Linked DNA regions of Homo sapiens. The protein of the gene in region 1 purifies or fractionates together with the protein of each later gene. This does not show direct contact. Each region holds a gene or a part of one and is shown on either strand. Other genes may lie near its edges. The genes, in order: NEK1 and ALS2.

Evidence for each region.
Region 2: the proteins of NEK1 (region 1) and ALS2 purify together in Homo sapiens (affinity purification with mass spectrometry; 3 studies listed by BioGRID and IntAct, with this or other methods). This does not show direct contact.

Annotation. Positions count from the first base shown.
Region 1 is NC_000004.12:169,597,998-169,614,058, reverse strand, and holds the start of NEK1 (serine/threonine-protein kinase Nek1), read left to right. Parts: upstream 1-1,475; 5' UTR 1,476-1,837; exon of another isoform or gene 1,838-1,915; 5' UTR 1,916-2,039; intron 2,040-11,380; 5' UTR 11,381-11,428; coding exon 11,429-11,545; intron 11,546-11,954; coding exon 11,955-12,051; intron 12,052-14,861; coding exon 14,862-14,959; intron 14,960-16,061. UniProt on the Homo sapiens protein: Phosphorylates serines and threonines, but also appears to possess tyrosine kinase activity. Involved in DNA damage checkpoint control and for proper DNA damage repair.
Region 2 is NC_000002.12:201,717,923-201,733,983, forward strand, and holds part of ALS2 (alsin), read right to left. Parts: intron 15,517-16,061; coding exon 15,354-15,516; intron 11,262-15,353; coding exon 11,130-11,261; intron 10,719-11,129; coding exon 10,590-10,718; intron 9,854-10,589; coding exon 9,783-9,853; intron 9,357-9,782; coding exon 9,290-9,356; intron 8,945-9,289; coding exon 8,742-8,944; intron 8,628-8,741; coding exon 8,562-8,627; intron 7,533-8,561; coding exon 7,434-7,532; intron 6,538-7,433; coding exon 6,373-6,537; intron 5,520-6,372; coding exon 5,408-5,519; intron 5,199-5,407; coding exon 5,121-5,198; intron 2,207-5,120; coding exon of another isoform or gene 2,114-2,206; exon of another isoform or gene 2,064-2,113; intron 289-2,063; coding exon 155-288; intron 1-154. UniProt on the Homo sapiens protein: May act as a GTPase regulator. Controls survival and growth of spinal motoneurons.

The DNA.
Region 1 (16,061 bases):
GTCCAATAAAATATTTAAAGAAAAAGAAACCCCAAAGCACTCTTGTTTAAAAATAAAAAAAAAAATCAATTGTACAGGGGTATATAAACCAGAAAGGGAAATCAGGTAATCTTCTTAGGTAACCTGCTTTATTTACTCATCAATATATCAATGGTATCTTTGTATGTCAATAAAGTAGATCTTGATTACTCTTTTAAATGGCTTTAGAGTATTTCATTGTTTGGATATATTATAATTTAATCAATTCTTTATTGTTATACATTTACAGTATTTCTAGTTTTTCTGGTTATAAACAATAACGGTTATCCTTGTATATAAATCATTGCTCACTTGTTCCAGAAGTTAAATTGCTGAGTCAAAGGATATGCATACTGCTAGCATACCTTCTAGAAAGACTGTAGCAGTTTGTAGTCCTACCAATAGTTTATGACATGAGCCTAAAGAATTATCTAAGGAGGTTAGCTGACTAGCCATTCTTCCTGTAAGCAGCAAAAAGAATTTGCTTAGATTAGTAATTGGCAACATTTCACTTCACTTTGATGTACAAAAGGATGTGGGTAGAACTACAATTGTGCATTCAGACATGATAATTCCTACTAACTGGGGGTAGGAGGGCCCACAGGAGTGTAGACTAGAAGTAGAAAGAATGAGGAAAATAAGTCTTTTGTAGCTGTATGGCGATTGAAGAGGAGATAAAACAAACTCTCCAGCTTTTCAGGTTGGGTGACTTGCAGCGCCATCGTCTGGCAAAGCCGCCAAAATCTTTCAATGTCCCTAGGAATAAAGTTGCCCTGAGTAGGGCCACTCAGGATGACGCCAGATGATATCCCTTATTATAGTTTTAGGGGAATCTCTTCCTACCTTCGCCAGTCCTGCAGTGAAAAAATGTACTTAGACTGCTGTACATTTCCAAACCCTTCAACATACAGACAAGTAATTTATACATACATTAGATGTAAAGGTGTAGAAAACCCCATACAGCTTTTTAAAAATATCTCAAGACTTAAACATTCTTCTGTTTCAACCATCCAAGATATAATAGGAAAAGACTTGCTTTTTAAAGCAAAATTGCTCTTTAAAATGTGGCATCCCTAAGTAGTGCGCTTTCATGTAAAATAAAAAAGTCCCTTTCTCGGTGTAGTAGCTGTGGGAAAATTTTATATGCTTTATATTCCAAATTGGTTTCAACTAGTGAGTTCTCTCCCGCATCTCTGCATGACTCTTAACAGCTTTACACTCTCTCCATCCTTTTCATCTCTCCCGTCTCGTCCTTTCTGTCTTCCCGCCTGCAGAGCCCGCCCCTCCCGTCCCTTCGCACAGCACCCCGCCCGCCCCTTCGCACAGCACCCCGCCCGACCCTACGGTTCTAGCCCAGCCTCACTGCTCCTTCCCAGCCGCCTCCGCTGCGTGCCGCCTTCCACGCGCTGACGTCACACGCCAGCGCCGGTGACGCGCCGGCCGCTCTCCCTTAGTCCGCATTCGCTCCAGGGTTTTGGGACCCTAGGTTGCGGAGTCCTTACCCTACCCTGGCCTCTCGAGCAGTTGTCCCCATAACTCGGAATCTAGAGCCGCTGTTGCGAGGCAGGAGCACGTGGCAGTCAAGTAGCTTCCCAGTCCCGAACGCCGCCCGTCCCCACCCCGCCGTGGCCACTAGCAACGACCTCTGTGAAGTTGGAGAGGCGGTAACGGAGGCACTCCCCCTGCTGCACCCCGCCGTTTCTACGGGGCTCAGAAACCAGTTTGTTTGTTTCGTCGGGGTAGTGTCGACCTGTCTTACGGGCGTCGCCCGAGACAGGACGGAGTCAAACCCGTGGTATCAACTGAAGACGAGTGTCAGGTGTGGAGAGTCTCAGTGCCCCCTTTCAGTCTGGACTGTGAGCTGCTGCTGGTTAGACAGTCTTGGTTTCTCTTTCAGGATGTCATTTTCAAAATGCGGGATGGTACCTCTGCTTTATTAAGCCCCGTAGGAAGACTGCCACACCTAGACTGATGCTTATTAGTCATCACCGTTATTCCTACTAACGTCCTGTGTCACTGAGGTGAGTTCCACTTGGGGGAAGGAATGACATGCAAAATGGTAAAAATCATCCTGGAAATGAGATGTGCGTAGAACTGCTTATATTGAGATTACACAGATACCTTAAGTGTTTGCAGGGAAAATACCTTAATCTCATTTAAATGTTAATTCTCTAAGACACTCTGTATTAACAAAGCGATTCTTGGACATTACGGTATTTTTAAAAACTAGAGCGGTAATGGGATTAAAATAATAGGAATCTTAGTATGGATAAGCAAGCATTTGCATTGCTTATGTTGTGTCCAATCTTAAATTACTGATAAATTTTAATTAGGAAGCGAATATGAGTAGTAGTTAGCTGGTTACCCTGTAATCTTAGATTTCTGTTTCCATGATTTGACACAGTTTCCATATGTAAGGCATTAATTGTTGTACTACTTTAAGAGTTTATCATAACTTTTTTTGCAGGCCTATTTTTTGTTCTTTAAGATCTGCTTTAGGAAGCAGAAATATTTTTTATTGCCTTGGTATGTTTCATTAGAAATGTTTATGAAGGATTAAAAGTGGCATCCAATCTAAGTTAATGACCTTTTTTTATGATGCAGCAGTATTGTAGAGCTGATGGAGGGGAGCCAAATTTGGAGAGAAGTAACTCCTTGTTTCTAGTTTACATTTGTCTGGTTTTAGAGGTTCTACAGATCTGTTTCACTTAAAATATCCATTGTTCTAGGTGAAATGTAAGGAGCCTATTTTGTGGGAAAACAGGTTTTTTTCACGTTAAAAGTCACTGTCAGGAATTTAATAAAGGTCGTCGGACTTGACCACAGAAGTTCTTTTGAGGTCGTGTGAATAGTACATTGACATTGTATTCCAAGTAAATTTTGCCCTGTCTAATCTCCTGCCTTCTAGTCTAAGTCATGAACATGACACCTTTTCACGAATGTACATTCTTTATTTACCTGTTGGTAGTTTCTACTACAAAATCTGTTGAATATTGTCTGAATAGACTTACAGAGAAGAAAAAATATTTTGAAAAAAGTCTAATAGAAATTCCATTTTTGCTTTCTGCTTTTTCGAATAAAGGAAGATAAAGAACTTTTTTCCTGAGAAGATAAATGGATCCCCTCCCACTATTCAAGATGGTATTTATTGCTTAGGCAGAACTGTATGTATGGATTGTAGCTGCATACAGCGCCAAAAGACTTCTTGAAACCTGTTGCCATGCCTTTACCATGTTTCCCTTCAAGACAGCCTGTCTATAGAATATCTGAAACACCTGATGAGAGCTTAATGCTTAACCTAAGTATGTGTTCCAGATTGATCGAAGTTGAGCTTTTCCATTCATATACTCTAAAATTGTTTATATGTGGCTCACAAAATTTTATTATGTCCAAAATTGCTTATTTGTGGCTTTAAAGAAATTCTTAGTGGCTGGGTGCTGTGGCTCTTACCTGTAATCCCAGCAGTTTGGGAGGCCACGGTGGGTGGATCACTTGAGGTCAGGAGGTTGAGACAAGCCTGGCTGACCTGGCGAACCCATATCTACCAAAAATACAAAAAATTAGACGGGCGTGGTGGTGCGTGCCTGTAATCCCAGCTACTTGGAAGGCTAACACAGGATAATTGCTTGAACCCGGGAGGCAGAGGTTGCAGTGAGCCGAGATACTGCCACTGCACTGTAGCCTGGGCGACTGAGTGAGGCTTGTCTCAAAGAAAAAAGAAAAAAAGAAAGAAATTCTGGGTCAGACGCTGTGGCTCACACCTGTATTCCCAGCATTTTGGGAAGCCGAGGCAAGTGGATCATTTGAGGTCAGGAGTTCGAGACCAGCCTGGCCAGTATGGCGAAACCCCGTCTCTACTAAAAATACAAAAATTAGCTGGGTATGGTGTCACACTCCTGTAATCCCAGCTACTTGGGAGGCTGAGGCAGGGGAATCACTTGAACCTCGGAGGCCGAAATGGCACCATTGCATTCCAGCCTAGGCAACAGAGCAAGACTCTGTCTCAGAAAAAAAAAAAAAAAAAGAAATTCTTAGTAAAATGTGAGGAAAGCTGTCTTATTTGACTAGAGGCTGAGGTACTTTTTTCTGGAGCATAGTTCATATACTTGAAAAGAAGCATGATGCCATAAGAAAACTTTGAATGTCAAAAGTGAGGAGTTTGGAGATGGGGAATTGTTGAAGGATTTTAATTGGAGAAATTGATTTAGCCAGTATTCTTACTATTTCTATCAGATATTATTGTTTTAATATTTATTGTTTTGAATAGATAATACATTTGTATGGTTCAAAATTCAGAAAGTACAAAAGATTGAAAAATCTTTTCAACTATTAAATGCCTTCTTTGTAGGCAGTATTACTAGTTTATTGTGTATCTCTCCATAGATATTATTTAATACAAGCCAGGGGTGCATGTGTGTATATATATACATATGTATATTTATACACATATATGAGTAACTGTAAGCATATATACTTATGTATTTCCTTTTACTAAACAAATGATAGCATGCCATATTTATTATTCTGATCCCTAAAAATCTAACAGTGTATTAAGAAATTATATCAGTTTAAAAGTTGCTGTGTTGACTGTATGTGAATGATTACATTTTGCTCTATTAGAAACAGTGCTGCAGAGGATAACTTTGTAGATACTTTGTTTTCCTACATTTGGAAATATTTGTAGGGTAAATTGCTAGAAATTGAATCACTACATCAAAGTTTCTGTCCCCTTATAATTTTGGTAGATGTTGCCAAATTATTTTCCTTAGTGCTTGTACCAATTTATAGTCCCACCATATTGTTTCCTGCTATTCCCCCACAGTACAGTACAATAATCAACTGTGAATTTTGCCATTCTAATTGATGAAACATGCCGTCTCTTGTGCTTTTTTAAAAAAATTGTGGTTAAATATACATAACATAAAACTTACCCCTTGTATTTTAAAATTGTATTTCTTCTTCTTTTTTTTTTTTTTTTTTGAGAAGGAGTCTCGCTCTGTCACCCAGGCTGGAGTGGAGTGGTGTGATCTCAGCTCACTGCAACCTCTGCCTCCCAGGTTCAAGCGATTCTCCTGTCTCAGCCTCCCGAGTAGCTGGGATTACAGGCCTGCACCACCACACCCAGCTAATTTTTTGTATTCTTAGTAGAGACAGTGGTCTTACCATGTTGGTCAGCCTGACATCAAACTCCTGACCTCAAGTGATCCGCCTGCCTCGGCCTCCCAAAGTGCTGGGATTACAAGTGTGAGCCACCATGCCCGGCCAAAATTGTATATCGTTTTACAGGAGATTGGGTATCGTGGCACATTTTAACATAATTTGTATTCATTCTCAGTGTTAACGTTTAACTTCATATCCTTTGTCCACTTTTCTTTTGGATTGTTGTGTTTTTTGGTCTTATAAATATGTACGAGTTTTTTATTTGTTAGAAAAATGAGATCGTTGTAATAGCTAAAATATTGGTCTAGTCATATTAATCCCTCAAGGTTTTTTGATTTTGTGTTGTGCTTCAGCTAACCACTCTAAGACAGAAGTCATTCTCCCATGTTTTATTTTATTACTATTATGCTTTTATTTCTTACATTTCAGTATTTTAGCATCTAGAATTTAGGTTGGTGTAAAATGAGGGAATAAATTAACTTTTTTTCCCCACATGGCTACCCAGTTGTCTCACTGCTGGCTTTGAACTTTTTATTTCAAAATTCATCTTTTTTCCTACTGATTTGAAATGTCACTATGATTATTAACCAAGTTTTAAAAGTTTTTTGATTTCTGGACTTCCTGTGATTTGCCTATTTCATAATTATTGTAGCTTTGTAATGTGTTTTGATATTAAGCCAAACAAATTTTCCTTCATTGCTCTTCTTTTTCAATATTTCTCTGGCTGTTCTTCTTCTTCTTTGTGTGTGTGTGTGTGTGTGTGTATGTGTGTGTGTGTCTGAACTTTAAAATCAGCCTGTCTAATCACCCCCAGCCCCAAAGCTTATGTTTTTATTAGGACAGCATTAACTGTAGAGATTAGGAATGAAAATCTTTATGATATTAAGTCTTCCTATACATTTCTTTCTCCACCCCCACCCCCATCCCGGTGTGTGTTGTTGTTTTTTAATATTTTTCTCTCAGTTTTTTTGTTGAATATTTTCTATTGGTTCATTTTATAGGCTAGTAATCCTGCCTTCTGCTGTGTCCTGTCTGCCGTAAATCCATGAATGAGTTCTTAATTTCAGATATTTTATATTGTAGTTTTAGAATGTCCACTTTTTAGAAATAAATTTTGAGGCCAGGCGCGGTGGCTCACACCTGTCATCCCAGCACTTTGGGAGGCTGAGGCGGGCGGATCACAAGGTCAGGAGATCGAGACCATCCTGGCTAACACGGTGAAACCCCATCTCTACTAAATATACAAAAAAATTAGCCGGGCGTGGTGGCAGGCGCCTGTAGTCCCAGCTACTTGGGAGGCTGAGGCAGAAGAATGGCGTGAACCTGGGAGGTGGAGCTTGCAGTGAGCCAAGACTGCGCCACTGCACTCCAGCCTGGGCAACAGTGCGAGACTCTGTCTCAAAAAAAAATTAAAAATTAAAAAAAAATTTTAATTCTTTGTTGAAATTCTCCATCTTTTAAAAAATCTGTTTTATCCATCTTTTTATCTTGTTTTCTTAGACATATTAATTAATCATGGTTACTTTCAAGTCCTCTATTAGTAACTTCATGTTTGAGTCATTTGTGAGTCTATATCTGTTTTTGTTTAATGTGCATCATTATTTTTTGATGGGATACTAGACATTGTGAATGAAAAGTCTTAGAGACTCTGAAACATGTATCTTGTAAAAATTGTTAGTTTTGTTTTGGCAGTCTGATGAAGTATCAGTGAATAACTTTGATTTTATCCATGGTTGCTTTTAGGCTTTGTTAGGATGAGACTGTTTCAGTCCTCCTCCATGTATGCACAGTTTAGGAACAGAATAACAGGAGCAGAACTTACTGTAGATTTTTGGACTCCTTCTATTATTTTTCCTCTTCAGGATTTTGGTAGCCCTGAACTCTGACCGCTTTCTCTCCTCAGCAAGACTGCTGCTTTATACTTGAGCTCCATTGTACTGTAGCACAGTTTGGAAACTCTCTTCAGGGAAAAGGCTGGGATGAATGTAGAACCCACTAGTATGTTTCCACCTTTCGGTGATTATAGCCCCTCAATGCATTGCTGTTTCTTTATATATTTTGTTCAGGTTTTAAGTTGTTTTGGAAGGTGAGGTGATCTGATACTAAGAACACCATCATGGTTGAAAGAGAGTCTCACGATTTATTATGTAGACTTTCACTTAATCTCCTAGATCATAGATGGGATTTCCATTCTTAGTTGTGCCTGGTGTACCCAATCTAGAGATATCTGTGGTCTTCTTTCAAGATGGGAGAGGAGTACTTATCTGACTGGGAGAGGTGGAGGAGGCAAACTAAGTGTCTGACACTTCTTACACAAGCTCTTCACCAATCCTGTTTGAGTCCTAATATTATCCTCACTCTTAGATGCCCCAGTACTTCCAATTATTGAGCTAGTTTGTGGTGGGAATTGACTTGTTTCTGACTTATTTCCCACTGCTGGCTTAAGGTACAGCTTTTCTCTATTCTCCTAAGTCAGTTGCTGCATGTTCTTTTGTGTTTGCCAGCTTCTAGAACTGTATTGCTGTTGCCTTCTCTTCTGTTTTGCCTTTTTGGTAATCCCTTTAAAGTCATGTTCCTCAGGTTTGGACAAGTAGTAGAGGTAAATATGTACGGGTCAATCTAGTATGCTTAACTGTAGATTACAGTTTATTTATTTTTACTTTTTAAATAATTAGGCTAAAGAAATTAGTATGACTTCTTTTAATTTTTTGATGGAATGGCTTTCCCCATCACTCTTACTCTTTGTGGCTAAGAGTACAATTCTAAACAGTGTTGACATTATATATTTTCTGACTTTTTAATTTTCTTCTCCTTGAGTCATAGACTAGTCGACTTGGCAAGGTCTATAAAATGGCATTAGGTTTAAATCTTTCGTGTTTCTAGATAAAGAAACTGAAGTCCACAAAAGGCAGATGGTTAGCGTTTGATTATGTAGCTAGTCTTGTCTCTTGATTCTGAATTCATTGCTTTATTAGGTGACATAACTCTTTGGAAAGCTCAAATATCAAAAAAGTCTCTGATTTTTTCCTTGTTGCTTATCTTCAGGATCAGCTATGTATTATAGAGATTGAATTGATATAATTATTAGAGACCTTAAGAACACTATAGAGTGAGTAAAGTTGGTATTGTGATTTTCATTTGATGTTGGAAACTGAATGGTAGAAAAGGCAAACATTAATTTGAGTTTATTACAATACTGAAGTAAACAGGATTCGTATGTTCCTTCAGTTATAAGTTATGATTTTGTATGTGGAAGCCTATAGTACAATTTGTTATTGTTTTCTATTTCATTTGGTATGAAAAATTTTATGGAATTATAATTCAGTTGAGAAGTCTCACAACTAGGAAGTAGCTCAGTTAAATATATTGTAAGATGCTGAAAGTAATCTATTTTTTCATGTTTTCCCTTTTACTTCCTTTATTGTACACTGACATTACAAAAAAGGAGAGTTTGTCTGTTTTCCTGAAAGTCATCTACCACAAGTCTTTTGTTGTTCAGAAAAGTGTCTGCATTTGACATATTTGATGGCAATTAGAGTCATCTTTCTTTACTAACAGGATCAGTAGGTCTGCTTTATAGAGTTAGAACCACAATGTTCAGTAATGTTGTTGGCAGTAGAATGCAACACTGGGGACTTTTGGAGCTTCTGTCTTATTAGTGTGGTCCCTAGAAAGGAATTGGCAACTTAATTTTAAGGAATGGCCAAATTGACTAATTTTGTTTCCCTCTCTTGGCAGAAAGTCGCAGAATAATGATGATTGTGAAGTAATCTCATTATATGGCTATTATTTAATTTAATTTTTGAAATTTAGATTACTAAGATGAGTTTATCTTGATTTTTTTTTGTAAGTAGCATAGTAATGTAATATATTAAACATTCATGTTCTGGAAAAATCATTAAATTGTGGCTGGTGCCCAGATAGCCATTATATTGTGCCAGTTAACACAACTTGGGCTTGAAAATATATTTGGAACAACTTTTCTTCTTTAACTCACTGATGCTAAAATGCTATAATAATGGTTTATTTCTTGTTTCTCTTAAAGTTGCTAAAGGCAATCTTGTTTTCTAAGGTAGAGAAAGGCTCTTTCTCACAAAATTTCATGAGTCATACTTATCTCATCAGTGCTACCACAGGCTGAGTTCTGGCCTGTGGTCTGGTCTTGTAGGCACAGCATATGATGTTTGTCATTTAAGGAGATTGGATCATTTTTAGAGGCAAAATAAAGTTAAAAACAAATTTGGCACTGATGGATGAGATAAGAACATGGATTTTTTAATTTACAATGAGAAATATGGTAAACTGCCACAGAAATTTAAAAAGAGTTTCACGACAAACTTATTTTCTCCTAGAAAGGAATCACACATTGGAAGCCTGCTATGAATGGAAATAAAAAAGAGCAAGCTAGGTGAATTAAATGTTTATTAGTTTCAGATTAGCATAGTAAATTCATGTATGTCTACAATAAGGGTGATATTGCCAATAGGTTGTACACATTATTGCTCTTATGACTCTTTCTCACACTTTTTTCAGCTTTCACTAGCTAGCTTATTGTATTCTGGCTTCTCCTGAAACTACCACTCTTTTGAAATTACTATTCCTAAAGATACTAATGACCTTAATCAATTGTTTTGGTATGGTAAGGGTTTAAGTGTGATACTAAAAGTAGAAATATAAAGAAAAGATTAATACATTTGTTTATATCAAAATAATCTTTTATACTTAAAGGCAACTAGGATATAAGGGAAAATAATTTATGACAGATAAGGACTTCATTACATAAGGAGTTTTTACAAATTAAAGACCAACTCAGTATAAAATGATTAAAGAACATGGATGAATAGTTCAAAAGAGAAAAAATAGAAATGTTCAATAAATGTGGCCGCTCATGGTGGCTCACACCTCTAATCTCAGCACTTTGGGAGGCCAAGGCGGGCAGATCACCTGAGGTCAGGAGTTCAAGACCAGCCAACATGGCGAAACCCCGTCTCTACTAAAAATACAAAAATTAGCTGTGTGTGGTGGCACACACCTGTAATCCTAGCTACTTGGGAGGCTGAGGCAGGGGAATCGCTGGAACCTGGAAGGTGGAGATTGCAGTGAGCCGAGATCGTGTGACTGCACTCCATCCTGGGCTTCAGAGTGAGACTGTCTTAAAAAAAAAAAAAAAAAAATGTTCAATAAATGTGGAAGAATTTTTCAAATTCACTGGTAAGCAAAAGAAATCAAAATAAAAACGAAACACCATTTTCCCCATTAGACGTATGGAGTAACAACAATAACAAATAGTGACACAGTGTTCATATGTGCCAAGTACTGTTTTCAGTACATTCTTACATTAACTAATTCTTCCAACACTTCTGTAAATATGTACTATGGTTATTCACATTTTACATGTGACCAAACTGAGCACATAGAGATAAGTAACTTGCCTAAGTTTACATAACAAATAAGTGATAAAGCTAAGATTTAAACTTTTTAGTGTTCTTTAACTACTACCCTTTATTGCTTCTCAAAGATTTTAATAAATAACAACCAGTGTTTTGTTGTTATAAATGACATTACAGTAAACATCTCCCTAAATACAAGAAATAATAATAACCAGTGTTAATGAGGGTACCTAGTAGCAGGCACTACTGGCTAAATACGTATTAGTAGACAGTTCTGTTAAGACACTTAATATGTTTGAAAGCCATACTGTAACATGGGCATATTCTTTGAATTCAGAATTTATCCTAAGGAAATCCTTACAATAAGCACATTAAAATATGTGTACAAAAACTATCCAAAATTGTTCTATACTAGCAAACATTTTAAACGAATGTTGAATAAGAGGGGATTAGTTAAATAACTTCAAGAAATAGTGTATTATTAGGTTTTCATTCTTTTTGGAGAAAATAAAGTAATGCTACTAATTAATTCATGTAAGTTTGCCTTTCTCTCCATACATTAAGTATATGCAGTATTTGGCTTTCCAAAGCATTCTTATAAAATTGAAATATCACATTTTTTTCTCTTTTTTGGATGTAATTAGGTTGTACTAGTAAAGTATATAAAGTGTAACTTTTAGTGAATATATTAAATATCCTTTTTTAAAATGTTAGCAAATCACTAAAGAATTAGAATTTGAATTAAACATTAAAATTGTTATGAAGTTATAATGTTTTATCTCATGTTATAAATGCTTTATCTTTTTTGTTAGTTTTTTAAATGTCTAGCATATCTGTAAAGATGCCTTAGAAAAAGAATCATGGAGAAGTATGTTAGACTACAGAAGATTGGAGAAGGTTCATTTGGAAAAGCCATTCTTGTTAAATCTACAGAAGATGGCAGACAGTATGTTATCAAGGAAATTAACATCTCAAGAGTAAGTATATTTTTAGTTTGGTTTCATGAGTAATGGTTTAGTTACAATAGAGCTCATTGTTAGAGATTTTCTTTAAAAAAAAAAAAAAGTAATCGATAACCTAAAGCAAAAGACTCCTTTATTCCCGCTAATATCAGAATAGCCTATATATTCTTTCAGATTTTTTCTATGATATGTGCTTATGTTTATGTGTTTAGAAAAATATACTTGCTGTTCTGTAACCTAATCTAGTTTGGACATCTTAAAATGTTTCTACTTACAGATTCAACTCATTCTTTTTAACTTCTTGCTATATTTTGTTGATTGAACTGTATTAATACTATTATGTTTTAACCACTCACCTATTGATGGACTTTTAGGTTGTTTATTAATGGTTTCATTTACTATTTTCTTTTTCCTCCCATTTAAGATGTCCAGTAAAGAAAGAGAAGAATCAAGGAGAGAAGTTGCAGTATTGGCAAACATGAAGCATCCAAATATTGTCCAGTATAGAGAATCATTTGAAGGTCAGATAAATTATGCGAGAGAGTTAAAAAATCCTAAGACATTAATAAATCTTTTTGTGAATGCATTCTTAGGAAAAAGATACCATTTTTGCTTAAAAACATACGCATATGAATATCAGCTTGATTCAAGGACAATACTGATATCATGCCTGCATTTTTTTTTTTTTTTAAATTGAGACAGTCTCGCTCAGTGGCCCAGGCTGGAGTGCAGGGGCATGATCTCGGCTTACTCCAACCTCTGCCTCCCAGGTTCAAGTGATTCTTATGCCTCAGCCTCCCAACTGTGCCTGTATAATTTAATACTGGCTGTTATTAGTGATTGCTTTAAAAGAAGCAATGCAGTAAGTGCAAGAATTTGGACAGAGCAAGAACAGTAATTTACATATTTTTTAACTGAACTTCCTGTAAGTGCTGCCACCACTACCACTGAGAAAATGTTCTGATCTTTAGAAAGTATCCTCACTCAGTATGCTCCTCTGTACCTCACTATTATAATAGTGAGGTATGTTGAAAGTTTTCTCAGGTTCTTAAAGTATTATAGCTATAATGCTGTTTTGGAACTATATGCATTATATTTAATAATGCAGGTATTAAGATAAGGCAAAGCTTCTCTAAAGGCAGGTCAAAGTGGTTTATTGAAGTCCTACCCAAATATTCTCATTATTATAAATTTCTGTAACTTAATTTCTGTAAACTAAAAACCAGGTAATCTAGATTGAAAGTAGAAGATAATTGAAATGACTCAGGGACATATCACATACCAGTTTCAGAGTCTGAATTAGAGCTAAAGTTACTACATTCCCAGATGAACTCTGTGTCTACTATAAGTCTCTTCTACTTTTATAAAAATGTGATTCAATTAATACATTATGTCACAAGGTACTGTATTTTTTATGCTGGCAGTGAAATGAAGATTTATATTTCATGTGAAAGAGTACAAAATTAACCAACTCTTCCTTTTCAGGACCTTGAATTTTCCTTTATCTTTCTCCTGGCATCTATCCTTTAGTTTCTTTTTTTGTTGTTGTTAACAAAATTTTAATATTTCAAGTTAAAAGGTTTTGAGCAAATATTCCAGCAGATGTTTTGGATTTATATTGACTGCTTCACATAGAAACATCTGTGTGATTCAAAAGGGGTAGCGTATTTTAAAAATAAGGCTTTATTATTTCTCTTAGTTTTAGAAGAATACATGCTAGCATCAAACATAAATGATAGCATAGTATATGTAATTTTTTGCTTTTTGTTATGCTACATACATTATAACATCTATATACATATAAATAGTGAATTATAGTTTTCAGGAGTTTTTTTCACATTATAATTTCTCACATGTATATTTGGATGATCTTTCCAGGTCAATCATAAAAAGTCATACAGATTCTTAATTAGCTTTATCATATAGATTCTTATCCCAGTGGCACATTACAAACAGTAGATCAAAAGAAGATATGTGCACCACGAGTGACAAGAATGTCACCACAAAGTATAAGAAATAAATACTCCTGGAGGCTGGATGCGGTGGCTCACAATTGTAATTTCAGCAACTTCGGGAGGCTGAGGTGGGAGGATCTCTTGAGCCCAGGAATTTGAGATCAGCCTGGGAAACATAGGGTGTTTGTAGACCCCATCTCTACAAAAATTTAAAAAATTAGCCAGGTGTGGTGGTGTGTGCCTGCGGTTCCACCTACTCTGGAAGCTAAGGTGGGAGGTTTGCTTGAGCTCGGGAGGTCGAGGCTACAGTGAGCCATCATCGTGCCATTGCACTCTAACCTGGACCCTGTCTCAAAAGAAAAAAAAAATACTGCTGGAAATAAGGCCATAGCACAGTCAGTGAAAGAAGTGAGAACTAGGAAAACTGTTCTTTGAGTTGTGATAGTCTCAGTACTATGTAGTGATTCAGAAAATGTTAAAAGTGATATTGGCCACTCTTCCTTACTTAAGAAGTAAGGGATGGAAAGAATCATCAAAGTGTTCTTCTAAGCTGGACACAGTAGCATGGGCTTGTAGTCCTAGCTATTGGGGAGGCTGAGGCGAGAGGTTCCCTTGAGCCCAGGAGCTCAAGGTCAGCATGAGCAAAATATTGAGACACTTTTTCTTAAAAGAAAAAAAAAAGCCTAAATAAAAAAAAGAAGTATTCTTGTAGTCCTTTCTATCCATAGGAAGAAGCACAGAAGTACCTTTCTTTGTGGACCGAGACATAAAGGTGGATGGGGCAGTGCCCATCTTCATGTTTGTTCACAAATCATATGCAATTTTTTAAAAAGTGCATAAAATTAAGGAAAGCTCAAAGAGGGTGGAAACAGTGTATCCTATACACTGTTGAATCCTCAGAGTTTATCACAACACTTATTATTTTATTTATTTAATAAGTAAGTGATTAAAGTGGATAAAACAAAGCAGAGAATTAATGGCCAGTCAGAAAACTAAGATAACCCATCTCTGATGTGATATATTGGTGGAAAAACATGATTTTATGTGTGACATTTAAGGAATTGTATTTATTGAATGAAATCAAGTATGTCTGCATTTTGTTTATATTTCAGAGATGTTTAGGTCAATGCAAACAGCACTATTCAATAAAATAGTGTATTTTTAATAGAAATCATTAATGATGGAGTTTTCTGTTAACCTAAGTCATTATACAATCTTTGTGACCGGTATACCTTGACTTTGTGCCCTAATTCTTTTGAGTATGGTCCTGTTTTTTGTTCAGCAGCTGCTTTTTAGTAAGCTTTTAAGTACTTTTAATTTAGCCATGCTTTTGATGTACGTTTTTAAAAGTGGACTGTAATGTTTATATTTTGTAGAAAATGGCTCTCTCTACATAGTAATGGATTACTGTGAGGGAGGGGATCTGTTTAAGCGAATAAATGCTCAGAAAGGCGTTTTGTTTCAAGAGGATCAGGTAAGTTTGCATTTAGGAAATTGACTCTTACTCTATTATTGAGAAGTAGTTCAAAATTTGTTTATGTGTGTATTTGTTTTTAACTACAAATGCTAATCAAAATTACTAGGGAAGTTTAGTATATCAATAGTTTACTCATATTTACCTCTAATTAGCTGCCACCTTTGTTCAGTTGCCCATCTCATTTATAGTCTGTAATGATATATTGTTATCTCTGTGATGTATGTTATATATATCATGCGTCTATGTATATGCCTTAATTATTCATTATAACTGACTAGTCTATATTCTGTCAATCTGGCTTACTGCTGCCAGACTATATATTCCTAAAATGTGGCTTTGCCAGGTAACTCCAGCTCTAGAAGCCTTGCACCGACAACTGCATTAAATCTAATCTCTCTTTTGATTTCCAGGATCTCTAAAATATGGCCGTTCCCTACCTAAGCAGCCTTATTTTTTTCTATTCCCTAATCTGTACCTCTTTTCATTTGCTTTAACAGATATTTATTGAGCATGTGCTTTGTGTTAGGCACCGGGCCACATGTTTGTACATCTCATTCTCCTTCCTGTGTATTTACTCTGATTATTTCATTTATTTTGGTAAGCCTTTTCCCCAAACTTTGTTATTAATACTCTACCTTTTTTTTTTAAGCTCAGTTCAAGTCCCAGCTTCTTTAAATTTTCCATAACTACTTTAATCTGTGATATTTTCCTTCTCTACATTCCTATCACATTTCTCATTATCACCAGTTCTTAATTTTAATTGCCCGCTTTTACATAGGGGAGTAGAGGGAGCACTGTGCTAGGAGTGTTGTATTTGTTATCTCTTCTAATTTGGATAAGTTTTTTCAATTTATAAGGAATCCAAGAGAGGTTAAGTACTTGCCCCAAATCACATAGTCAGTGTTTGAACCCACCTCTAACTCTAAAGTTTATAACATTTTCTTTTCACACACTTGAATTATAAAAGTATTGAAGTATACAGAAATGGAAAGTCTTCTTTCTCCACCCTTTTGTTCCTGAGATTACCACTGCTTTTAGTTTGGTGTATTCTTCCAGACTTTCTTTTCCATACTTAACACATGTACATATATACATTAAG
Region 2 (16,061 bases), on another chromosome or scaffold:
AGTGACACCCTGTCTCAAAAAATAAAAATAAAATAAAATAAAAAAGAAGACTTTAAGAACTTGACTTTGCTTTTAAAATATTAACCAGCTTTGATAAAAGCAAGACAACTCCAAACATTCAATAATTAATCCAGAATTAACACTAGTTACTCACAAAACTTTAGGTCTGTCTTTATCACTCTCATATAGACTAGGTTTGAAGTAGGTTCCAGTGATTTTTATCCCAGATCCCCATTCTCCACTAAAATAACCTTCAATGTAGTCTCCATTTGGCATAGTCAGTGTTCCCTAGGTAAAGTCAGAGAATAAAATGTGGGGTTAGAGGAAATATATTCAATATTCATTTATTTATTTAGAGACAGAGTCTCACTCTGTTGCCCAGGCTGGAGTGCAGTGATGCGATCTTGGCTCACTGCAACCTCCGCTTCCTGGGTTAAAGTGATCCTCCTGCCTCAGCCTCCCAAGTAGCTGGGATCACAGGCGCCCGCCACCACGCCCAGCTAATTTTTTGTGTTTTCAGTAGAGACGGGGTTTCACCATGTTGGCCAGGCTGGTCTTGAACTCCTGACCTCAAGTGATCCACCCACCTTGGCCTCCCAAAGTGCTGGGATTACAGGCATGAGCTACCACGCCCAGCCCTCAATTTTTAAAATCAAGAGAAAAAAAGCACTAAATGGTTGTTTTCCTTTTTAACTTGCTCTTTACCAGTCTCCAACTCTTTAAAACTCAAACAAAATATGGGCACATGCATGTCTAAAAGAGTATATGAAAATAATCCATGGGTAAAAGAAAAAAACACACACACAGGGAAAAGTCAAAAATATTTTGAACTGTATAAAATGACCATACAATATATCAAAATTTAGGGGATGATGTAAATTACAAGCAGTGCTTAGAGGGAAACTTTTAGCTGTTAACACCTATCTTTTCAGGAAGTTCTCGAATCAGTAATGTAAAATTCCACCTAATAAAATTACAAAAGGAGGAACAAACTAACAAACTAAACCCAAAGCAGGAAAGAGGAGGGAAATGATAAAGATTAGTGCAAAAATCAGTAAATGAGATAGAAAACAAAAAATAAAGAAAAATCAATGAAACTAGAAGTTGCTTCTTTGAAAAGATATATAAAATTGACATTTAACTAGATTAATCAAGAAAAAAAAGAGAAAACATAAGTTTCTAAAATCAAGAGTGAAACAGGTTATTACTACCAGCCTATAGAATTAAAAAAGTTAGAAGGTGCTATTGTTTGGAAAGTGTGTCTCCTCTAAAATCTGTGCTGAAACTTAAACCCCACTGTGATGGTAGTAAGAGGTGGGGTCTTTTGGGAAGTGATTAGGGACAGTGTCCTCATGAATGGTGCAGTGCCTTAGAAAAGGGCCAGAGGGTTGGGCGCTGTGGCTCACGCCTGTAGTACCAGCCCTTTGGGAGGCCAAGGTGGGCAGATCATGAGGTCAGGAGTTCGAGACCAGCCTGACCAACATGGTGAAGCCCCGTCTCTACTAAAAATACAAAAATTAGCTGGGCACGGTGGCACGTGCCTGTAATCCCATCTACTCAGGAGGCTGAGGCAGGAGAATCGCTTGAACCCAGGAGGTGGAGGTTGCAGTGAGCTGACATCATGCCACTGCACTCCAGGCTGGGTGACAGACAAGACTCCGTCTCGAAAAAAATAAAAATAAAAATAAAAATAAAAATAAAAGTGCCAGAGGGAACTATCTTAGGCCTTTTTGCCCTTCCATCTTTTGCTATGTGAGGCCTCAGCCAAGAAGGCCTTCACCAAACAGGGAATGCTGTAGCCTTGATCTTCGACTTCCCAGCTTGCAAAATTGTGAAGAAATAAATTTCTCAGTCTATGACATTTTGTTAAAGCATCACAAACATACGAAGACAGAATGGAATACTAAGAGAACAGCTTTATGCCAACAAAGTAGATAACATAGAGAAATAGAAAAACTCCTAGGAAGACAAAAAGTACCAAAACTGACTCAATAAGAAATAGAAAATCTAAATAGACCTAAGGCAAGTAAAGAAACTGAGTTAGAAATTAAAAATTTTCTCACAAAGTAATGCTTAGGCCCAGAAGACTTCATTGGTGAATTCTCCCAAACATTCAAAGAAGAAATAATACCAAAGCTTCGCAAACTTTCAGAAAATAGGGGAGGAGGGAACACTTCCCAACTTGTTCTATGAGGCCAGAATTATCCTGATATCAAAGACAGACAAAGACATCACAATAAAAGAAAACTACAGACCATTACCTCTCATAAATATGAATGCAAAAATCCTCAACAAAATATTCGCATTAAATCCAGCAACACCAACATATAAAAAAAATTATACACCATGACCAAGTACAATTCATCCCAGGAAAGCAAGGTTGGTTTAACATCAGACAAGCAACCAATATAATACACCATATTAGTAGAATAAATGATAAAAACCACATGATCATCTCAACAGATAATGGAAAAGCACTTTAACAAAAAATGCTTTTCAGCCAAGCATGGTGGCTCATGCCTGTAATCCTAGCACTTTGGGAGGCCGAGGTGGGTGGATTGCTTGAGCTCAGGAGTTTGAGACCAGCTTGGGCAACATAGCGAAACTCTGTCTCTACAAAAAAAAAAAAAAAAAAAAAAAAATTAGCCAGGCATGGTGGCATGTGCCTATAGTCCCAGTTACTTGGGGGGCTGAGGAGGGAGGATCGCTTGAGCCCAGGAGGTTGAGGCTGCAGGGAGCTGAGAACACGCCACTGCACTCCAGCCTGGGTGACAGAGTGAGACACTATCTCAACACACACACACACACACACACAAACACACACACACAAAGCTTTTCTCTAAAATAGAAAACAATGTAAAGATGTCCAATCTTAACATTTTTCTATTCAACATTCCACAGGAGACTCTAGCCAGTGCAACTGGACAAGAAAAAGAAATAAAAGCCTTCCATATTGTAAAGAAAGAAGCAAAAATGTCTTTACTTGTAGGTGATATGATTCTGTATGTAAGAAATCCTAAGAAATCCACACACAAAAAAAACCACTAAAACTAATAAACGAATTCAGCAAGATTTCAGGAAACAAGAACAAAATACAAAATCAACTGCATTTTTATATTATAGCAATGAAATTAAGAAAACAACGCTTTACAATAGCATCAATAAAATACTTAGAAATAAATTTAACCAAAGAAATGCAAGATGTGTACACTGAAACCTGGAAAATATTGCCAAGAGAAATTAAAGATGTAAATAAACTGTGAGGTGTTCTATGTTCATGGGTTGAAGAGTCAATATTAAGATGGCAATTCTCCCCAAATTAATCTATAGATTCAATGCAATCTCTATCAAAATCTTAGCAAGGTTTATTGCAGAATCTTGATAAGCCAGTCCTAAAATTTATATGAAAAGTCAAAGAATCTAGATTGGCCAGAACAATTTTGAAAAAGAACAAATTTGGAGGACTTATATTCCTGATTTCACAACTTACTAGGAATCAACAGTAATCTAGATGGTGTGGTATTAACACAAGGAGAGACATGTTTATCAGTGAAATGTAACTGAGAGACCAGAAATAAACACATTTTCTGGTCAACAAAGGTGCCAAGATTCAATGGGAAAAGGTGTTGGGAAATTTGGATAGCCATATGCAAAAAGATTAGTTTGGACACATAACTCAGCCCATATACAAAAGTTATCTTAAAATGAATCACAGACCTAAATATAAAAGGCAAAACTATAAAACTTTCATTTTTTTTTTAGACGGAGTCTCGCTCTGTCACCCAGGCTGGAGCACAGTGCCACGATTTCGGCTCACTGCAAACTCCGCCTCCCAGGTTCACGCCATTCTCCTGCCTCAGCCTCCTGAGTAGCTGGGACTACAGGTGCCCGCCACCACGCCTGGCTAATTTTTTGTATTTTTAGTAGAGATGGGGTTTCACCATGTTTGCCAGGATGATCTTGATCTCCTGACCTCGTGATCTACCTGCCTTGGCCTCCCAAAGTGCTGGAATTACAGGTTTGAGCCAACAGGCAAAGACTTCTTAGACATAACATCAAAAGCATAATTCATAAAATTTTTTATAGAGTTTATTAAAATGAAAAACTTTTCTATTTCAAAAGACACTATTAAGAAAATAAAAGACAAGTCAGACTGCAAGAAAATATTTACAAATCATATCTGATAAAGGACATGTATCCAGAATACAGAAAGAACCCATACAATTCAACAAGAGTACAAACAAAATTTTAGAAATAGGCCAAGATCTGAATAGACATTTCATCAAAGAAGATATATGAATCACTAATAAGCATGTTCTACATCATTAGTCACTAGGGAATGCAAATTAAAACCAGGAGATACCACTTCATACCCATTGGAATGGCTATAAGAAAAAAGACAGAAAATAAGAAATATTTTTTGATATGGAGAAATTAGTATCCTCAGACATTGCTGATGGGAATGTAAAATGGTACAGACACTTTGGAAAAAAGTTCGACAGTTTCTTAATATGTTAAACATCAATTTACCATACAACTTAGCAATTACACTCCAGGCATCTACTTGAGAAATGAAAATGAAAACATATGTCTACACAAGAAACTGCATTCAAAAGTTTATAGCAGCATTATTTACAATAGTCTAAAGTTGGAAATAACCCAATGTCCATCAACTGGTAAAAGGATAAACAAAATGTAGTTTTGGAACACTATTCAGCCATAAAAAGGAACAAATACTATACATGCCACAATATGGAAAAAACAAAAACATTATACTAAGTGTAAGAAGCCACATAGAGGAGATTGCATGTATGATTCCATTTATACAAAAGGCCCAAAAAAGGCAAATCTATAGAGTGATTAAGGGTGATTAGTGGTTGGCTGGGACTTTAGGTGGAAATGGAAGTCACTGAATGAGCAGAAGGGATTTTCTTGGGCGATGGAAATGTTCTGAAACTGGATTGTGGTGGTGGTTTGTACAGCCATGTTGACCAAAAATCACTGAAACGTGCACTTGAAAGGGGTGAATTTTATGGCATGTAAATCAGCTATTTTTAAAGTAAAAAAAAATTAGTAAAAGAATTTATTAGGGAGAAAAAAAAAGAAAGCTAGTTTCCAACCTTTCCACTAAGAGTCCAGTCATCTGAAAATTCTCCTTCATAGATAGTATCATCTTCGGAAAGCAAAACCCCATTTCCCTACAAGAAGAAACAAGAGAAAAATTACAACACATAAAATACAGAGTAACTTAAGAGTGCACGCAGTCATATCCCCAAAGCCTTATGGAATCTTAAAAGAAGGAAAATAGTACTAAGAAGGTGGAAACTAATCAAAAGATGATTTAAAAAGTTAAGGACAAAGGAGCTTTAAAAAGTTAGTAATAACTACATGCAAATATTCCACTCACCATCATTTTATTAAGGTGAAAGTTGCCCTCGTAGTATAATCCAAACTGGGTAACCACCACACCATTCCCTTGACACACATCATCTTGCCACATTCCCATATACTTTTCCCCCCTGCACAGAAATAAAAAGAAAAGAAAAAGCACTGAAGATAAGGATAAAGTAGGGAAAAGACAATTATCACATGGGAGATCCCAGGCATCAACCCTAGGTTGGTATTGCTTCCATTTTTCTAGTTAAAATAGTTAACTTTGTCTCCTCAAATATGGGACAAAGTGATAGCAAAAGACATCTCACTCAGTAATCCTCTCTGAGGAATTTAATGTTGTGGTCTGACACAGATCTGTATATATCCCAGGTAGTTACTTGGTAACTTTAAAATACATAATTTTTAAAAAGAAGGTCTAGAATTCAACTCTAAATAATTTCATTTAAAATGTAATAAGCAGAATAAAACCTATGCACAGGTTTTTCTTACACAAAAGTTTGCTAACTTAAAAAGAAAGAGGCTGGATTCGGTGGCTCATGCCTATAATCCCAGCACTTTGGGAGGCAAAGGCAGGTGGATCACTTGAGGCCAGGAGTTCGAGACCAGCCTGGACAATATGGCAAAACCCCATCTCTACCAAAAATACAAAAAATTAACTGGGCGTGGTGGTGTGTGCCTGTGGTCCCAGCTACTTGGTAGACTGAGGTAGGAGGATCCCTTGAACCCAGGAGGCAGAGATTGCAGTGAGCTGAGATCGCACCACTCCAGCCTGGGTGACAGAGTGAAACCCTGTCTCAAAAAATAAAAAAGTAAATAAAAGGGTTTGTCATAAAAGAAGGTTCATTTTTCACCTACTCAAACTCAAAGAAATCTTACTAATCTCCATGAAAAAGACAAAATAAGTATAAACTGCTTGTTAAATAATGATGGTGCTTAATCATTGGCTTAAACTGTGGGAATAGAAGGAGAATACTGTACCTAGTGATATCATCAAAGACACCATATCCTGCTTTCTTATCCATTACCCACTGGCCAATGAACATACTAGGAGAAGAGGACGTCAATTTCCCACTTCGTAGAAGACCATGACCATGACGCATATTATCTTGAAAACAGCCCTCAAATACTTCACCAGAAGCATAGCTGTGGTTGGAAAGAATGGATAATTATCACATGCACATTGAATTCTGATGCTCATTTTTACAAAGTTTAGAAAATCCAAAACCATACTCAGTCTCACTGGTAGCTATAATTATTTGTTTATATGATTATTTTTCACCAATTAAAAAAACCTCATTTTCGAATGATTAAAGTTAAAAAGTTAAAGACACCATGTGTGGTATTTTGCATTAACATGAAAAACAATGTGTTTTTATTCTCTTATGGGAAAATGAAATAATGAGTTATTTTTAAGAGGGAAGAATAAAAGTTTTGTCCATTAGAATCCTATATGTCTTATTATAGATAAGACCATTTTTTCATAAAATTATGGTTTATAAGGTATATAAAATTTAGGGCTGGGTGCGGTGGCTCATGCCTGTAATCCCAGCACTTTGGGAGGCCGAGGCGGGTGGATCACGAGGTCAGGAGATCGAGACCATCCTGGCTAACGCGGTGAAACCCTGTCTCTACTAAAAATACAAAAAATTAGCCGGGTGTGGTGGCGGGCGCCTGGAGTCCCACCTACTCGGGAGGCTGAAGCAGGAGAATGGCATGAACCTGGGAGGCAGAGCTTGCAGTGAGCCAAGATTGCGCCACTGCACTCCAGCCTGGGTGACAGAGCGAGACTTCATCTCAAAAAAAAAAAAAAAAATTTAGATAAGAACTAAATTTAATAATCCAGTATTTTAATCCTGCGATAGATGAGGGGTTAACCTTTAAAAGATGATCACACAGAGTTTCAATTTTATTTACTCCTCTAAATTTTATCTATAAGACTAAACAAAACTTAAAACTTGGAAATTTTGGCTATGCAAACATTCAGGTTTACATGGTTATATGAAAAACAAACACCAGTCCAACAGCCTTTCCAATGTTACCTGTAGACTCCTTGACCGCACATTTTTCCTTCTTTCCAATGGCCCACATAATGGTCTTCTTTGTTCATTGCCTTGTTTGGGATTCTGTATTCTCCATACCTGCCATGAAAAAGAAAAAATAACAAAAGAAGATGCATTTATGACATATTCACCTTTTGTATGTATATCCTGGTAAACATTTTAACAAGGAAGACAGAGAAAACATTCACCTGTAGGAGTAAAGGGTTAAAACAGCATCTTGGTTTAAGGTGAATCTATAACCTAAGCTGTTTGGCAAGAGGAGTGGGACATCAGCCCCACTACACTAAGATATGGTGTTTTAATCCAACTCCAGTGAAAAACAGAAGACCTGTGTCCTTCACCTATCTCTGTCACTAATTACCTGCACCACCATGCGGTAAGCCCAGGTATCTAGCTCCTTTATTTGGATAATAAGAGGGGCAACTCAGTGGGTAAATTAGATGATCTAAAGTCTCTTCTCATTCTAACAATCTATTAAAAAGAGATTTTAACACATCACAAGAATTTACATGATCACACAGACACACAAAATCACCTACCCAACATTTTTTATATACTAAATTACTTCCTTAACATTATACAAAATACTGCCATAAACTAATCATGTAAATACATTTACAGTGTTAGAAAACATGATAAACTTATTTTTAAAAAGTCATTAGAGCATCATTGAGATAATATAGCACTTGGAAAATTTCTCCTTTAACAGATCACAGAAATTAAAGATGACTTAAAACGACTGAAAGGAAAATTTTTCTATGTCCTTTGTGTAAAGGAGGACTACCATCTCAATAGTCCCACCATTAACATTACCAAAGATCTCAGTCTTCACAACTGAGAAATGAATAGAAAACATAGCCCCATTTTAACAGATGGAAGGCTGTGTAATTTGAGGTCACACGGCTATCAGGGAAAATGACCCAGTCTAGGTAAATCAGAGGCTGTACCCCTCACTCCTGGCTCTCTTCATGCTCATACATGTGCATTTCTAAAAAATAACAACAAAAATCTACTACTTGTTTGAAAAGCAGCTCTGCATACAAAATAACATAATTTACGACCTTACCGAACTTGAATTTACTGTCATGTTTTACACAATTTTCTTACCCATCTTCCAAGCCATTCCTGAACATGCCAGAATACATCTTTCCATCAGGCCACTTCAAAACCCCTCTGGAATGCATAAGCAAAGAATAATGCATGTCAACTAATATTTCAGATAATTAATACTTTTTCTATCATGTGATGATCATCCTCACCCCAGGCATAAATCTTCAACATTTTCACCTGCCATGAGGCTTCCCTGAAAGCCAGCGTCCATCATAGGTGGCATCCTTTAGGCGAGGATCCTTGTAGAAAGTATATTTGGCACTGCGTGAAATGGGTGGTTCCTGTCTCTGAACACTGCTACCACTTCCATAAGGGGGGAGATCAGACATCCCTCTCAAAGCCTGATCTACGGCTTGGCTTATAGCTCGTAGCCACTTTGTCTAGGAGCAAAAAGTAACGTCAATAAGTTTAAGGCAACAATTCATCAAGCATTGCTTTAAATCCTGCTAGTTTTCTTTGGTGTGAATAAATTATTTGTGTCCTAATGCTTTTCTTATTAATAGAGTAATATTGACTGGCTCTTGTATTTCTCTGCTATATGTTTAAAATTAAGTCACATTAAAAAAAAAAACAATGAAGAACCTACAGTTTTGGGTTAATGAAGATTTATCAGACAGAACTGTGCATCATTAGTCAAGCAAGAACAATTTATATTTCTTCTTTATTACACAAGAGGCAGAAAGAGCCAGGGCGAAGATTGAAGGAAAATACCATAATAGACTAACCTTTTCCTGGGGTGTAGATGAAATGAGAGTGAACTGCTCCTCAGGTGTAGTTATCTTTAAGCCATTCCTAAAACGTTCACAAGGATAAATACCAGGACATTTAACAACCTGTCATTACAGTATCGATCCTCAAATATGAAAAGCAACCTCTTTATTTCAAGAGGAACAGAAATCAATTAATGTAAATGCTTGCTTGGTTTTGGGCGCCACCACGGTGGAAAGAACAAAGAATTCTCTGCTCTGTGCTGAACGATGGGGATGTGTGCAATGAAGATGCCCTTTCATCACCTAATCGTGACTTGCCATGATCTTCACAACAGGCCATTTTATTATCAATAGACTACTTTACTGTCTAATGTGCTGAGAGGTGGGCCTCATTATACAGAATGAGGAGACTGTCTCCGAAGCCTTCCTGAGCTTTTTTTCACATTTAAGGAAGCAACCTGGGTAACAGACTTGGACGGGGTGGGGTGGGGAGGGGGGACGCACTTACACACCACCAGCTTCTTCAGACAGTGGCTCTGCCCACAGCGTGGCCAGAGGGAAAACATGGTGCGTGGAGAACTGAAACAGAGAACACGGAGGCACTTTTATGAAAGCCCATGTAGACCTCGGGGACTCTGCCCATATCCCCTTCATGTCATTAACCCACATGGGCCTTGCAGTCTCTGCTGCAGAACCCCTTGAAATAGTTAAGCCCATGTAGGTGCCACCAATTCTGCCACATTGTCCCCATAACACAGCTAACCCAAAGGGCCTTGCCATCTCTGCTGCAGGGCCCTCTTCACATGGCTGACACTCATTCTCAAGCTGGAAACTTAAGAAGTTCTCTGAAATCCAACGCATACAGAAATCCATGCTGTAGCTAAAATAGCCTCTTTTTTAAAAAAAATTATTATTATACTTTAAGTTCTAGGGTACATCTGCACAATGTGCAGGTTTGTTACATATGTATACACGTGCCATGTTGGTATGCTGCACCCATTAACTCGTCACTTACATTAGGTGTATCTCCTAATGCTATCCCTCCCTCCTCCCCCGACCCCACGACAGGCCCCGGTGTGTGATGTTTCCCTTCTTGTGTCCAAGTGTTCTCATTGTTCAGTTCCCACCTATGAGTGAGAACATGCAGTGTTTGGTTTTTTGTCCTTGCTATAGTTTGCTGAGAATGATGGCTAGCCTCTTTTAGTCAACAGTTTCAGTAAAATCACACTAGTTTTGAACATAAACTGATAGTACAGTTAATAAGGATAGGGGTCCACCTTTCAGGAATTCTTTTAAGGTTAGGAATCCAGCCTACCTGGGCATGGACCAGGGCATCATTAAAGAGAATGAACCAATTCACGGAAAACCTCCCAGCATGCTGCAGAGACAGGGCTCGGTTACTACTCTCACACAGCAGTCGACGCTCTGGCTTCCTCAAGGAATCCTGGAATTAAAGACAAATATAATACAAGTCAAACAATCAAAATTATTTTAACATGTAAAGAGAAAATAAAACAGACACAAATCACATTTAAGGGAATTTGCTGGTCGTAGCTTAGCTTGGTGTAAAATCTAAATTTATATGGGATCTAAACACTTCACAAAATTAGAGCTCAAAGGAGATTAAAAAGAAGACAAAAACAAACTAAAGAAGGTGAGTAAGTCTTCAGAGAGGATTTCTAGAAATGAGAGAAGGTATTTAGAGTACCCATTAGTATGGTCCTTAGACATTTTAGGAAAGGGGTCATTAAAAGGTTATTACCACAAACAAGTGAGGAACAGAGAAAATTGTATCAATTGTTATCGAAATGGTTGCTGTTTGCTAGGGTAACAAATGACAACTGGCATGGCTTACCGTCATTTTTCCGGGGAAGGTCTTCCAGAAGCCCAGTGTGTATTCTGCTTCCTTCCTTTTCCTGCCGAGATGGAGAGCAAGACACTCATAACAAGAACTGGAATCCTGCAGTTTCTGATATTCTGGAGATGCCTACAGGGCAAAAATTAAAGAGGAAAAAAAAAAAAAGAACATAAAACCATTATGCAGAATCTGTAGCCTCAGTCTGCCTTAGACATATAGTATTAAATGTAGGAGAAAATTCAGCCCACGAGCATAAGTAGCACACTGCAGGAGACTGGGAAAAGGAGATTGGTTTCAGAAAAATTCTACTACATAAAAGTACATATGAAATAGGGGCATAACTCAGGTGACAGAGACAAAACCTGGCAGTTAGTGAATAGAGCAGCAGAGACCCCAGGATAGAGCAGGAGTTCTCAAATATTTTGGTCTCGGGATCCCTTTATTTTTCTTATGTGGACTGTATCTATTGATATTTACCATATTAGAACATAAAATTAAGAAATGTTAGAAGCTTTTATTAATTCACTTACAAAAATTTTTTAATGGTAGGGCGCGGTGGCTCACACCTGTAATCCCAGCACTTTGGGAGGCCGAGGCAGGCGGATCACGAGGTCAGGAGATCAAGACCATCCTGGCTAACACGGTAAAACCCCGTATTCACTAAAAAAATACAAAAATTAGCCGGGTGTGGTGGCGGGCGCCTGTAGACCCAGCTACTCGGGAGGATGAGGCAGGAGAATGGCGTGAACCCGGGAGGCGGAGCTTGCAGTGAGCCGAGATGCGCCACTGCACTCCAGTCTGGGCAACAGAGCGAGACTCCGTCTCAAAAAAAAAAAAAAAAAAAAAAAACAACTTTTTTTGTGAGAAAAGTGGCAATGGTCCACATTTTTTCAAATCTCTTTATTATCTGGCTTTAAAAATGACAGCTGGACTTTTATATCAGCTTTTGCATTTAATCTGTTATATGTTGTTTGGTTAAAACCTATGAAGAAAATGTGGCCTTATAAAGGTATATATCTGGAATAGAGGGAAGCATTTTAATAGCCATTTCAAATAAATGTGGATATTCTCCTTTGATACTATATTAAAACTTGCTATGTGGTAGATTCTTAAAGGGAGCTGCAATGTAGAATCTGAAACCACAGCAATGAGCTTTTTGTACCCTGTGATGTTAAAATCCAGGGGTCTATCATGCACTTTGAATGGGTCTTTTACCATCTATGGCTTTGTACCATCTATGATTGTGGATTGGACATATGGAAAATATCGGTTGACTGAATTATGCAGATTTTCCAAATGTTGATACCTTTTTTTCTATAACATCAAAAATCACAGGATAATAGAACTACCAATCTCATGAGATAAAGTCCTAAGTATCAGGAAACTGTCAGACTCACAGTGGCAGATCCATCTCTAACATTCTAATTTTCGCTTAAAAGTTGAGATTTTATTATTGGCAACAAATACTATCAGTTGTTCTCTTTGAAATGACAGGTTCATTTACTCATTTCTGAGAAAATATCTGCCAATATCCAAATCTGAAAAATCAGTTTATCTGTCAATTGTCCTTTCAAGTTTAAAAAAAAAAAAAGCAACCCATTTATTTCAAGAGGAGCTCTCAACTCAACTATCACAGTCATGCTTTTTCTTGAAAAACTGCCACACTTCAGCATGCAGCAGAGCTGCTTTACATGTACTTTGCATGTCACCACACATAACAGGACATTCTTAAGCGAAATTGTATTTTAACTGCAACTGCATGGCAGTGAAGAACGCAGTGACTACTAGTATAGTCTGGTGCCACTGCCTTGATTCCTACCAAGGAGCCAGCAGTTTTACCCACCTTAACTTTTGCACCATCAGTGTAAATGACAATACAGTGGAAAAGGCAAATATCTTAGTATTGTCATGAAAATAGTTTTGACCTTGTGAACCCCTTGAAATAGTCTTTGGAAGCCCCAGGGGTCTGCAAACCAAGTTTTGAGAAACAACTACTGGGATGGGTGTAACCGCTACACCATGTAGCGAGGGAGCAGAAGGTAAGATCAAAGGATGATCTCTCACGTTTATGAGTAATTACTTTACTTGCTACAATTCTGAGAGTCACTCATTTTCATTTTTTCCATTCATTTAAGAAACATTTAATGAGTATCTACCACATATAAAACATTCTGCTAGAGTGCTAGGGAAAAAAAAATAAGGTATGATCTTTGTACCATAATTAGACAAGATAAAAAATGTACCAGAATAATGCAGTGGTTTTGTTAATAGGTTATATATCATAAAAGACAATCTAGGAAAGTAGGTTAAGAGGACAGATTCTGGAACCAGAGCCTGGATATTAATTCTAGCTCTGCCAATTCTCAGCTGTGTCTCAATTCTCTTATCTGTAAAAGGCTGATGATGAAATCGGTAATAATAATAATACCTACTTCACCGAGTTGATGTGGGGATTAAAGTTATATGTATATATGAATACATATAACTTGCTTAGAACAGTGCCTGGCATATAGAATTCATTCAATAAAAGTATCATCATTATTTTTATATGGAGACATTTAAAAAAATACATATATGTGTACACACATATATGACGTCAAGGCTGTGCCTTAGACTTACTAAATTATAACGTATAGTGATGGAATACAGGCAGGTTTTGTTTTGAAAAAGCTTCCACAGTTGATTTTGAACCCCTGTGATAAGGATAAGGGCCATTGATATAACATGAGAAGTGAATAATAGAGAAAGAAAGTGTTAGCAAAACACAGAGTAAATAATCCTTCAGAGATGGATAGGTGAAAGAGAACCAATATAGTCAAAGAGGGCTTTATTTTCATGATAAAATGACTTTTGTCCCAGAATGAGGATGGGAGTGGGAGTGTTTCAGGAAGGAAATATAAAGCATATGAAAGCTACATCCAGGGAAACTGAACTCTGACTCTCAACAATTCTAAGCTGATCTGGTGGAAAATTTTTTTATTAATTGAGGCCATATTGAGGTGAAAGCTGTATCTCATTGGGATATTTGAGAGGTCAAACCTTCACAGCTAAAGCTAGATCAGTTTAAAGACCTTGTAGGTCTTTTCTTTAGTCTGGTTTCACAGCAGGCTCAAATGTAGAAAGCCTACATCAATCAGTTCCTGGGTCACTCTGAGGGGTGAAATCTGTTTAGATCAAGAGACAGACCCAAAGATTAAGAGGATTCTAAACCTACAAGGGGCCAGCGTGGTGGCTCATGCCTGTAATCCTAGCACTTTCGGAGGCCAAGGCAGGCCAATCACTTGAGGTCAGGAGTTCGAGGCCAGCCTGGCCAACATGGTGATATCCCATCTCTACTAAAAATACAAAAAAAAAAAAAAAAAAAAGTAGCCGGTGTTGTGGTACACACCTGTAATCTCAGCTACTCAGGAGGCTGAGGCATGAGAATCACTTGAACCTGGGAGGTGGAGGTTGCAGTGAGCCAAGATTGCGCCACTGCACTCCAGCCCCAGTGACAGAACGAGACTCTGTCTCAAAAACAAACAAACAACAACAACAATAAAAAAAACCTATAAGGGACTTTGGAGTCATTATAATTTTTCTAGAGCCTTTCAGGGTAGAAACAAAATGAAATCACATATTTCGATGGGATTTGAAAGGTGAATGTCTCAGGACCAGTTTTAACATACATCTATATCCTAGTGTGGTGCTAACTTCCTAGGATTCCACCTAACTAGTTTTATGTAAGGGTGGACTAGTTAACATTTGAGAAAATCCTGTAACTGATTCCTCTCAGCATTTGCTAAGGTAACCTAAACACCTGGCATAAAGTCTAGCATGAATCCAGGCTGGGTAACACCCCTGCCTTACAGGTGTATGCCATTATACAGAAAGCCAGGGCTTTAAAGAGCTCTGTTTAACTCATAGTCAGCATGCATCCAATAAATTTTGACAACTACTGAATGAGTAGCATCTGATAGAGTCTCAACTTTAGACAGTTTCATAAAATGAATACAGTTTATTCATCTTGATAAGGCCCTAAAGGGAAACTGAATCCACAGAAAACTCAATTTATCTACAGTCATACTTTCCTCTGTCATTTCCCTGAAGAAAATTAAATTTAATTAGACACAGGTAAATATTAAATTACTGGAGTTCCAGATCTTGTGGTGGCATAATCCATACAAACAACTATGATCCTTGGCTTTCCAAATGTCCAAAGAGGTATACATGGGAGCTTACCACTTCAAAACAAGTAGCAAGCTTTAGCAAAACTTTTGCGTAATTATGAAGTCGTCTGATTGGCAAGAAAAACAAAGTATTCAGTATTTCCATCAACTGAGTGTTTTCGTCATTCACTTCTGACAAATCTTGCAACAGCTCTTGGTTTTTATTTAGGAAATCACTAGAGGCAGAGGAAAAAAAAATTTAGTTAATCATTTTGGAATTGGTAATATGTACATTAAATAAAAAATTTCACTAGAAAGTACCTCTTTCAGAATGCACATTTTTTAGGTGCTGTGAAAGTAGAAATACAATGAAATAAGCCAGATATAATTAAAAGAATTTCCCTATCTATAAGACAGGATTTTTAGTATGAAAAGTAGCAAATGGTAGCAATACAAACGGTTAATCACAGACTTGTGCCTATATTCTAGGAAATGAATCATGCATCCAACAATTTAAGATGAATAATCAGAGACCAGCTGACACCATTACCTGTTAATTTCAAAGCCAAAAGTCACAGCAATAAATGGCAAGACTAATTGTTCTAGGCAGCTGTGCTAAATAGAAACACTGGAAGAAAAAGCAAAGCTCCTTGCTCCAACAGAATTAGTGTGGATATTAAAACACTTCTAATTTCTTCTTTTTTCCTTCAATTATTGATCACCTAACAAGAGTTTATTATAGGAAAGTAATAAAAAGCTGCAAGAACTAGTATTACAGTTA